2 separate regions of the Homo sapiens genome follow, and region 1 is linked to region 2. The links come from fine-mapping of genetic effects on gene expression. A gene starts in region 2. The other region holds a variant in brackets. All regions are shown on one strand. Distances are between the middles of the regions.

Evidence for each region. PIP is the estimated chance that this variant, and not a neighbour inherited with it, causes the effect.
Region 1: its variant is the best candidate, but not a certain one, in a credible set for the expression of DARS1 in whole blood (INTERVAL, PIP 0.57).

What each region holds. Positions count from the first base shown.
Region 1 is chr2:135,920,852-135,925,851 of GRCh38, reverse strand. It overlaps DARS1 (aspartyl-tRNA synthetase 1), which reads left to right. Exons shown (of 16, transcript NM_001349.4): 8 at 1,354-1,465; 9 at 2,934-3,068. LOC124906078 (a long non-coding RNA gene) reads left to right here. Exons shown (of 2, transcript XR_007087246.1): 2 at 25-739. Among named protein-coding and RNA genes, the nearest start is that of MCM6, 47 kb to the right of the region's middle. The variant T/C (reference allele first, on the strand shown) is at 2,888.
Region 2 is chr2:135,982,832-135,988,297 of GRCh38, reverse strand. DARS1 (aspartyl-tRNA synthetase 1) reads left to right here and starts at 2,672. Exons shown (of 16, transcript NM_001349.4): 1 at 2,672-2,895; 2 at 4,844-4,901. The coding sequence starts at 2,830. It overlaps DARS1-AS1 (DARS1 antisense RNA 1), which reads right to left and starts at 3,122. Exons shown (of 4, transcript NR_110199.1): 1 at 2,782-3,122. RefSeq lists an enhancer at 2,826-2,925 and a silencer at 2,976-3,035.

The DNA.
Region 1 (5,000 bases), 62 kb after region 2:
GTGAAACAGCTTTTTGCTAAATAGGTCACTAGGCTTTTGAAAGCAGAAGATTATGCCATTTGTTTTGATTGGATGAACCAGACGTTTCACTAAACCACATAATGTGAAAAAAATGCAAGTCTTTTTCTATAGTTTAAATGTAGACATCTTGAAAATGAGTAAGTAATCTAATAAATTATAAAGACCTTTGAAATGGTTTTATTGTTTTATGAGAAACTATTGATTTGTAACTTTGAATGTAAGTTATAAAATAATGTTACTTAAATATGACCAGTTTACATGAATGTTTTTATCTGATCTGCAGAAATTCAAGATTATTTAAATATCATTCTTTAGAGTGAAAGAAATGTAATCATTCCATTAACAGTGTTTTCACAGGGTACTACTGTGTAAATGCAGAAGGGGTGAGCCCTTTGATATGGGAGAAGTAATTGAAATTCTCGTAATGAGACTAAGAAGACACCTTCTTCACCTAACTCAGTTATTCACAGCTAACTTAGTGGTTTGAGGTCACATGTTTTACTAAACACCTACCTAGTCATAGGATAGCTATTTTTTAAAAATATAATAAGCCAGGACCTAAAGATAAGAAGTCACTTCTTTTGACCAGAGAAGTGGACAAAAGTTAGTCTAAAGTAGAGATAATTACCTCTAGAGCTTTCTGGTCACCATCACAACTGATTGAGGCTAAAAGTAAATAGGAGGACCAGAGAAACTGAGAAAGAAAGGAGGGAAAGAGAGAGAATAGAAAGAACAGGCAACTGTGCTGCACAGTTGGAGCGCTACTATTGTTTTATGTACCACATTGGAAATCAGTGTCATGGGATGCCTACCCCTTTTATTGTATTTTTTTCTTTTTAATTTCTTAATCTAATTGAACAAATACACAAGTATCTGCAATTGTATTGTTGTAATGGTTAAAATAAAAATACATGGTTTTTATTCATTTATTGTCAAATACCAAAATCTTACTTAGAACATTAGTATGCTGCACAAACATTGCTATGTCTCACTTTATGGGTTGGTTGCCTTTAAAAAAAACAGACCATTCACAAGTAAGTTGTTTCACTAATTGTTAAGAAACATTTTTCTTTTATGGAATTCCTACAAATTAAAACATCTGCTCACTAAGGATTTCCGGTGAAATTCCTTTATATGATCATATATAGTCATTGTATTCCAGCATGCCTTTTTGCCTTGTATTTATTCGTGTCCTTTCGTCTTCTCTCCAATTATTAGAATTTAAAAATGTTGAAAGCAAGAATTGTTAGGTTTCCACAGTGCCTAGCCCACAGAGTTAGTGCTTAGTAATTAAGTACGTTGATTTAATTAGATTTTATTACTGTCTTCTAGACATCAACTAGTCAGGCAGTCTTCCGTCTCCAGTCTGGCATCTGCCATCTCTTCCGAGAAACTTTAATTAACAAAGGTTTTGTGGAAATCCAAACTCCTAAAATTATTTCAGGTATGCTTCAAAATATTTCTCTTAATTTTTAAAAATAAATTTGCTCTCCCCAGAGTTGCTTTATATTAATAAAATTTTTAACTTGAGAATCCCAAGTGTCCATTAAGGTTTATTGCCATGAGACTACTATTTTGAAGACCATCTTATATAGCAACAATCATATATCACCAACCTTAATAAGTACATTTTCTTATTCCAGGAGTCCTTTTGTGATAATGATTGTAATGTGAGGCAGTAACACACAAAGCAAGATTCTTGTTACAGAACTTACACCAGGAACTACTTTCATTATATAGATTTCTTTTGAAATTAGTATTGCAGTTTTGTTTTGTATAAACTGCATTGTAAAATCAGTAAATACTAATGATGGGAAAATTTCCTTAATTCTTGTTGCCCAGGCTGGAGTGCAGTGTTGTGAATTCGGCTCACCGAACCTCCACCTCCCAGGTTCAAGCGATTCTCCTGCCTCAGCCTCCCGAGTAGCTGGGATTACAAGCATGCACCACCACGCCGAGCCAATTTTGTATGTTTAGTAGATACAGGGTTTCTCCATGTTGGTCAGGCTGGTCTCGAACTCCCAACCTGAGGTAATCCATCTGCCTCGGCCTGCCAGAGTGCTGGGATTACAGATGTGAGCCACCACGCCTGGCTAATTCTTATTCTTGTATGAGAATCTTGTCTTAATCATTTTACCCTTTTTAGATTTGTTTAACACTAGAAAGTGTGTTACAAATGGCATTTTGTTACAAATTCACAATTGAACATTGCATTCTTAATAATTAGAAAAATGATTATTCCAGGCTGGGCGCAGTGGCTCATGCCTGTAATCCCAGGAGTTTGGGAAGCCGAGGTGGGTGGATCACGAGGTCAGGAGTTCGAGACCAGCCTGGCCAAAATGATGAAACCCCGTCTGTACTAAAAATACAAAAACTAGCCGGGCGCGGTGGTTGACGCCTGTAGTCCCAGCTACTTGGGAGGCTGAGGCAGGAGAATCGCTTGAACCTGGGAGGCGGAGGTTGCAGTGAGCCGAGATCGTGCCACGGCATTCTAGCCTGGGTGACAGAGCAAGACTCCATCTCAAAAAAAGAAAAGAAGAATGATTATTCCAGCTCCTGGGGAAATTTTTTTAAAAGAGGAAAAATGATGAAGAATATATTTTTTCATTTTAAAAAAAAAATTTTAACAACTCCAAAGGGGCTTTAATAGTTTTGAAATTGATGCAGAAAGGGAGCATATATATCCACAGAAGTGAAATAAAAGCATAGCCAAAGAAGTAAATCTGGTTTAAATATAAACTATTTAGAATCACATAGAAGATGATGTATATAGACTGTGATTTAGCCACAATTCTTCATTTTCCAGTTTTTGTTAAAGTGAGTTACCTGAGTATAAACTTTTTAACTAGAGGTTTGCATTGATAAG[T/C]TTACAATTGATTATAATAATATAAATATAAATGTTTACCTTTCAGCTGCCAGTGAAGGAGGAGCCAATGTTTTTACTGTGTCATATTTTAAAAATAATGCATACCTGGCTCAGTCCCCACAGCTATATAAGCAAATGTGCATTTGTGCTGATTTTGAGAAGGTTTTCTCTATTGGACCAGGTAAGATTTTGGCAGTTATGTTTTATCCAAGTTAATTAATTATACAGCAGTTATAATTTTAGAAACATTTTACTTATATAATGTACAGACACTTTGAAAGCTTAAATTATTTTATCTGCTGACTACACAAATGCTAGACTTTGAGTTAGAGATAATATATTTGGGTAGACATTTTCTTAAAAGTAATAGTAATAATAATATGGTCAATAGTACTTTAAACAGTTGAGCATCATTCCATGTGAATACAATTATAAACATATGTATTCTTACAGAGGAATGCTGAAGAAAATTTTTATCTTGAGAATATGTCATTTTAAAAATGCGTTTCTTGAAAATATACACCATCTGAAATATACCTAAGTATATATTTTAATATACCTCAGTGCAGTTAGAACAGAATTAGCTCCCATTTGGACTCTTTTCAGCTCCCTATCAGCACTGAAGAGCAGGTAGTTGCAGTGGTCAAAGAAATATATGTTTTTGTCCTTTATAATTTCTTACTCCTGTAAGTTTACAGTGTACCTCTGTCTAATTTGCTATCAATTTTATTCCAGAGCTGTTCTGTTTCACTATTTTGTTTGTATTGTCCTTACTATTGGTAATGTGCTGATGTCCATTAGAAACTACTAACAAATATGTTATATTTAATAAATTATATTAATATGGTTTTTAAGAAATGTTTGCTAAAAGTCAAGCACAGGCACATAATCATGTGGCAAATTCTTTTTTGAAGCTAATTGTAAGTGAAAAGCCAGCGTTACTTTATTTAACACTTACCAAGTTATTTTATATATGTTTTTTGATACCTTAATAAAAATTAAATACTTGCTAATAGAGAAACTGGCAAGATCATTAAGGGTCTTAATTTTCTGAATTTATTAACTAGTTATTTGTTGAACACCTGCTGCTTATATAACCTTGTGCTAGGTACCATGTACATAAAAGAAGAACCAGCCAGCACTTCTCAAATGTTAATATGCACACAGATTACCTGGAGATCTTGTTAAAATACAGATTCTGATCAGTAAATCTGGGGAGAGGTCTGAGATTCTGCAGTTCTCACAAGTCCTGGGTATTGTTGATGCTGCTCATTTCCAGATCATGCTTTGAGTGATAAGGGAATCAATATTGTGCCTGCTCCCAAGACTAAGACATACATACATATCACAGTCATAGGGAATAATCAAATAATTTTCACAATGAATGATCAGATTGTCCTATACCATCAGCAAATGGGTGTTAATTATGTAGTATAAATAGTAACTGTAAAAAGAGAGAAAATGGAGTTTGCTAGAGTCACCATAAAAGAAAATTCAAACTGAGATGTACTTTAAGGACAAAGTAGGATATATAGACAACAGAGATGGAGTTCTAGACAGGAAGCAGAGTAAGTAAAGAGCAAGAACTACACAAGAAAACAAAAATAAGACAAGTTAGTATTAAGAAGTGAGAAATATAGGTTAGGATTAACTTACGAAAGCATAAAGGTTTTAGGGTTTTTTTGGTCATTTTATGTCTTACTACAGTAGTCATTTGGGAACCATTGTAAGTTTCTGAGCAAGGATGTATTATAGGAATATTAGTGATGTGAAAGATGAGTCGAACTAGAGTCAAAAAGACTGGACAGGAGGAAAAGGCACTGAGGATATTAAGGCTGGACTGGATATTAGCTGGACTGAGCTAATGGCTCTTAATATCCTCAGTGCCTTTTCCTCCTGTCCAGTCTTCCTGACTCTAGCTCGACTCATCTTTCACATCACAAATATTCCTATAAATGACTACTGTAGTCAAATGGAATACGTATGTTACTTTATTGGTAGAGTTTCACTTAGTTTGAGTCAGGTTTTAATAAAATTGAGAAGAACTCACTATCTTGGTCATAATTGAATATATTTTTAAATATTGAGAAGACACCTCAGGATCTTGCATTCC
Region 2 (5,466 bases):
CAGGTGCGGTGGTTCACTACTGTAATCCCAGCACTTTGAGAGGCTAAGGCAGGCGGATCACCTGAGGTCAGGAGTTTGAGACCAGCCTGGCCAACATGGTGAAACCATGCCTACTAAAAATACAAAAATTAGCCAGGCATGGTGGCGGGCACCTGTAATCCCAGCTACTCGGGAGGCTGAGGCAGGAGAATCACTTGAACTTGGGAGGTGGAGGTTGCAGTGAGCCAAGATCATGACACTTCACACCAGCCTGGGAGACAAAGGGACACTCTGTCTCAAAAAAAAAAAAAATTAAATTAAAAAAAAGAGAGAGAGAAAGAAGAATAAGCCAAAGTTGCCAGCTCCCTGTGATTCTTGTCCCATTAAGGACATCACTGAAACAAAAGGCACCAAATGACTGCAACATGAGTAGTGGGACACTCTGTTGCTTAACAGCCACTTCTAGACTCCAGTTAAGCAGTAAGATATTATATACATTTTTGTATTCTGCATTTCCCTTGAGGGAAGGGGGCAAGAAGTCCCACACCTCATCAGAATCTAGGAGGTAGTAAGAAACCATCCCATAACAGCCTCTCAGGGAGACAGGGAAGTGAGTGGGAGATGGCCTTCCACCCTCTCATGTTCCAGCAGGATCACAAGATGTTTTTCCAAGATTCAGGTTAGCTGCAGTTCCCGCCCTTGCCTACATGGCTTATGTGGATCCTGCAAAGCAGCCAGAGCACCATAGCAGAGCTGTTCCCCTATTCTTTGGTCTGTGGAATAGGCTACCATACCGGATAAAGCTAAGAGGAAATCTCTAAAAGTCACTTTCCCAGCCCCCAACTAGGATAGGAAATCATAAACAATAACATGTCCCCAAGGGGAATAGTGGAGATCAGTGCAACCCTTAAAGACGTAATGGTTGGTAGTCTCCATCACATTCCTATTGTCACCGGTGTGGCTCCAGCAAAAACCAGACAAATTCAGGAACTTGACAGTAGACTACTGCAAGTTCAACCAAGTCACAGCCTCAGTTGCAGCTGTGGTATCTTTACTACAGCAGATTCTTAAGACCTCAGGCATATGACATGTGGCCACTGATCTGGCAAATGCTTCTTTTCTATCACTATCAGGAAAGGAGGCCAGAAACAAGAATATATATTTACAGTCTTATTCCAGGACTAAATAAGAATACTTTTATCAAGGCAACGGGGCCAAAGTAAGAAAGAAGTACATGGACAGGCCTCATGGACAGATGGAAAGGTAAGATCGCTACCCTAGCAAAGGGATAATAGATGGGATTTGTATTCAGATTTCTGATAACCAGTCCATACATTAGGACTATACCTGATTGAGGCAATCCAAGTTTTAAAAAAAATTCCAAGATGAAGCAACTTCACAGACCCCCTTCTGTATTCGAATCCCATGAGTATAATGGGATGCCTTTTTTAACGGAATGTGATACTGATCATGAATATTCAGTGTTGCTCCCCAAGGAATGAGTAAATTCTCCTGCCCCCATGAACTCAGGAATGACGATGTGACTTGTTCTCGCCAATAAACTAGGAGAATGTGAAATGTGTCACTTCCAGGCAGCCATTTTAAGAGCTAAATTCTCTTCCTGACTCTGTAATAATGGAAGCATGTATCAAGATGGCGCATCTATCAGCCTAGGTACCTGTGTAATATTAAGAACAGGAACTAGGACTTATCTTTTTATTGCCAGCACCTGATAGAATGCCTGGCACAAAGTAGATGTTTGTAAATAATCTTTGATCAATTAAATAGGGAATAAAATTTCATACCACCTGCAATTAGAAGGAAAGCTACAGGCAAGCAAGGACCATGGCTGTCTTCTCACTACTCCATGGGGGAGCCTCCAGAGAGAGCCTTTCACTTGCGCTGGGATCTATGTGCACCCCTTAACACTTTGTGCCAGACTAAGACACTACCAAGTCAGTTGAAACGACGGAGTGCAAACTCTGGCAGGGGAAACAGTATTAAACCAAATCTCCAAATTATTTTCAATTTCGATTCAAAACTCATGAATGATAGCTTTTTTAAAAAATCAGTTTTTTAAAAAAGCCTAACTTGGGGATATTCGCCCATTGGGCAACCAACACTATGCACTGTCCCTAACACTGCAACAGATCCAGGCAATCAATGCAATTGTATGCGTTTCTTGTTGTCGTTGCCACTGTATTTACACCTCACTTACACAGGGACTGGTAACCCATGCTGCCTTGGCAAGCCAACTGCACTCCTCTGTCCCAACAAGCAGGGCAATGGATTGCGAAGAGGCCTCCTCCGTCCCCAAGCAGCTACGTCGCCCAGGGGAAGAGAGAAGGCGGGAAAGTCCAAGAGAGGAGAAACCAAGGCCCGCGCTTAGGTGGGTGTTTTAGTGACGAGTCTGCGGTTACAGCCGAGCGGAGTTGAAAGGGCTGTTAGAAGAATGGAGCAGAAGTCGCAGTTGGGACGAAGCTGAAGAGAGCTGGCATTCGCCCAGGTCTACAGCCAGCCACCTGGTAACCCCTGCCCCCGCCCCCAGAGCCAATCCAGCGAAACTACCGCGAATTCCCGGGAATTCCCTCCAACTCCGGGAAAACTCCCGGAGGGGCGGGGCAAGAGTGGGAGGAGACCCTGCGCGCGGCCGCCAGCGCTCCGGGATCTCGAGATAGCCGCAGCTCTCGCGATCTTTCTGGAGCCGCACCTCCACGCGGAGTCCGAGCGCGTGTGCTGAGACCCCAGGGTCGGGAGGGCGGAGACTGGGAGGGAGGGAGAAGCCCCTTTGGCCTGCCTTACGGAAGCCTGCGAGGGAGGGTGGTGTCCACTGCCCAGTTCCGTGTCCCGATGCCCAGCGCCAGCGCCAGCCGCAAGAGTCAGGAGAAGCCGCGGGAGATCATGGACGCGGCGGAAGTGGGTTTCCTCCTTTCCTGGGCCTGGGAGGACAGACCCCTGGGCCGGGCTGCGCCGAGGGAGGGAGGAGGGGGAGTGGGGCCCTACAGGTCCTTGTCGGCACGTTCTCCGCAGGCTGCGGGCGTGGGGTCCGGGCGCCTAGAGCCCTTGCCCCAGCAGTGGGGCCAGACCCTCTCCGGACCGCGTTTCTTGCGGGGGTCACCTGGGAGTTTGGCCTACTAGAAGCGTGTCCCCGGGGTGGGGAGGACGGGAAGAACCAGCCGCCCCGGAAGTAGGAGCGCGGCGTCACACTTGAGTCTCTCTGGGTTAGGCACGTCCTGCACGTAATGCACAATCCCTGGGAAAATTTTAATAAGCACTAGTAATCGATATGTACTCAGCCCTCGTGTTCCTAATGCTTTAGCAAGTAATGACAGTACTTAGCAAAACCATCTGCCAATATGTTTAATGACCATTTCCCATGTGACAGCTTTAAAGAACACATGTCATTTTTATTTACTTTCTCCCTCTCAGTGACCCGGTAAGGTAGGTAATAGGAGTTACCGAGAATGCATTTGAGGTGAAGTGACCCCAAATCACGTGGATAATTCATAACACCCAGTGATCCTTCGGTGCTTTTCAGAAATCAAAGTTTGAAACCATCCTACAAGTTATGTGTGCTGTAGTACTGTTAAGCCTTAATTTCCGTCTGGCTCCCTAATTTTTCTATAAGGAGTTCTGAGTTTGTGGTAAGCAACATGAGAAGTAAGGTCATCTTAGAATACTAAATGAGGAAGAGTCACTGAAATATTAATAGTACTAATTATGAATGCAACTTTTTTGTCCTTCACACAATTTAATCTCCTTCTGTTGCCCTCAGGCTTCATTGTGTGACTGTATCTCTCTACTCTGGCCAGGGTTATCTTTTTCTTTAAATTGTTCAGTAAGCGCCTTAAACATGTCTGGTTTTATTTTGGTGTAAACACAAAATCCAGCACCCTCCTGCTCTAAAGGAGAGGATTCCAACAGGTAGCTGTAAAGTGACAGAAACTTAATTGTTTCATACAGATCTTAAGTTACCTTGTAAAAACTAGGGCAATTATTTTTGTGTACTCTTAATCTGCTTAATTACATAAACTATCAGTGTACCCTTACAGATAGTATAGGTCTAGATACAAGGTAGACATTGTGGCAGAGTTATGCCATTTTATAGCTAGAAGAATCTTAGATCATTTTAGAGGTAAAGTAAGATTGAAATAAAGGCCACTTATCTATTTAATAAGTATATTTTGTTAACAGATTGGACCCTAGGTCTTCTGTTTCCTGTTCCTAACTCTAATCTGTAACAAGAAATTTGATATTATTATATTGTCAGTGTCAAACTCCTGTAACCTGGTATCCTGAATCTGGTTTTTAGAAACAGGAAGCTGGTGAATTTTTTGATGATGTTTTACAAAAGGAAAGTTGTAGTTAGCTTATACCCAGCATCTCCAGTTTCTAAAAACTGTGGACATCTGGTGCTCAGAAAGCTTACCCAAAACGTTGGTTCTCTTTGAACATTTCTTCCTGTAATAGGAAGTTAATAAAACTGTGGTACTTCATCCTACTCCCTTCACAGAGGAAATTTATGTCCCTGCTTTGAAGTAGTTTCATCTTTTTGAAGAAGGTAGTTAAGATGTGTTGTACATATGTGTAAATTTTATCTGAGAATGTTATTAAGTATGGTAAATCCATCTAGGAGTGGTGATCTTCAAAACAAACTAACCAGAAACAGTACTTTTCTGTTTTCTGTAGAGTACATATGTAAATGAATGAGAGATTTCCACATTATGAAACTACTGACTTTCTGAATTAATAAAATGATCCTGAAAGTTAAATTCATTTTTATATTCTATTATTAGTATTTATGTGTTTACTGTGCTCTTAGTGTTTACATAAAAAGTCACGATGCAAAAAACTTTTTTTGTAGGATTATGCTAAAGAGAGATATGGAATATCTTCAATGATACAATCACAAGAAAAACCAGGTTAGTAGCTATGTGACAGTAAATAAAGCTTTTTTGCTTTCTAATTCCAGGAAAGCTCTAAATGAAATTTTAAGTAAGGTTGGCATAAATCTGAAGGTATAATTCTGAAAAGCTTAAATGACATTAATAATCCAAGTAGATGTCATAACCCTGTGTAAACATTGTCAGTTTAGGGTTCCAACTCTAGAAAAGGAAAAAAAATGTTATTAGGTATTGTAGGTTAAATGGTATGTTTTAAATGGTAGATTATATTTTTTAAATATTCCTAAATTATTAGGTAAGATTCAACCGTTGTCTAGGAGATAGGAGAGTGGCTAATAACTGCCTTCATCACATGTAGCCTTTTTGCATGCTTTAATAAAGCTACCTCTTTTACTTCCCCCAACCCCCACAACTTTACTTCTCTGACTGTTTTTAGCTATTATTTATTCCTATTTTGCTTGACTCTTCCCAAACATTTATATTTTCACTTATTCTCTACAGCATCCTTGAAAACTAAGGAACCAAAGTTGAAAGATAAGAAACTTGACTTACACAGAGTCTGCCAGACTTGGGATTAGAACCA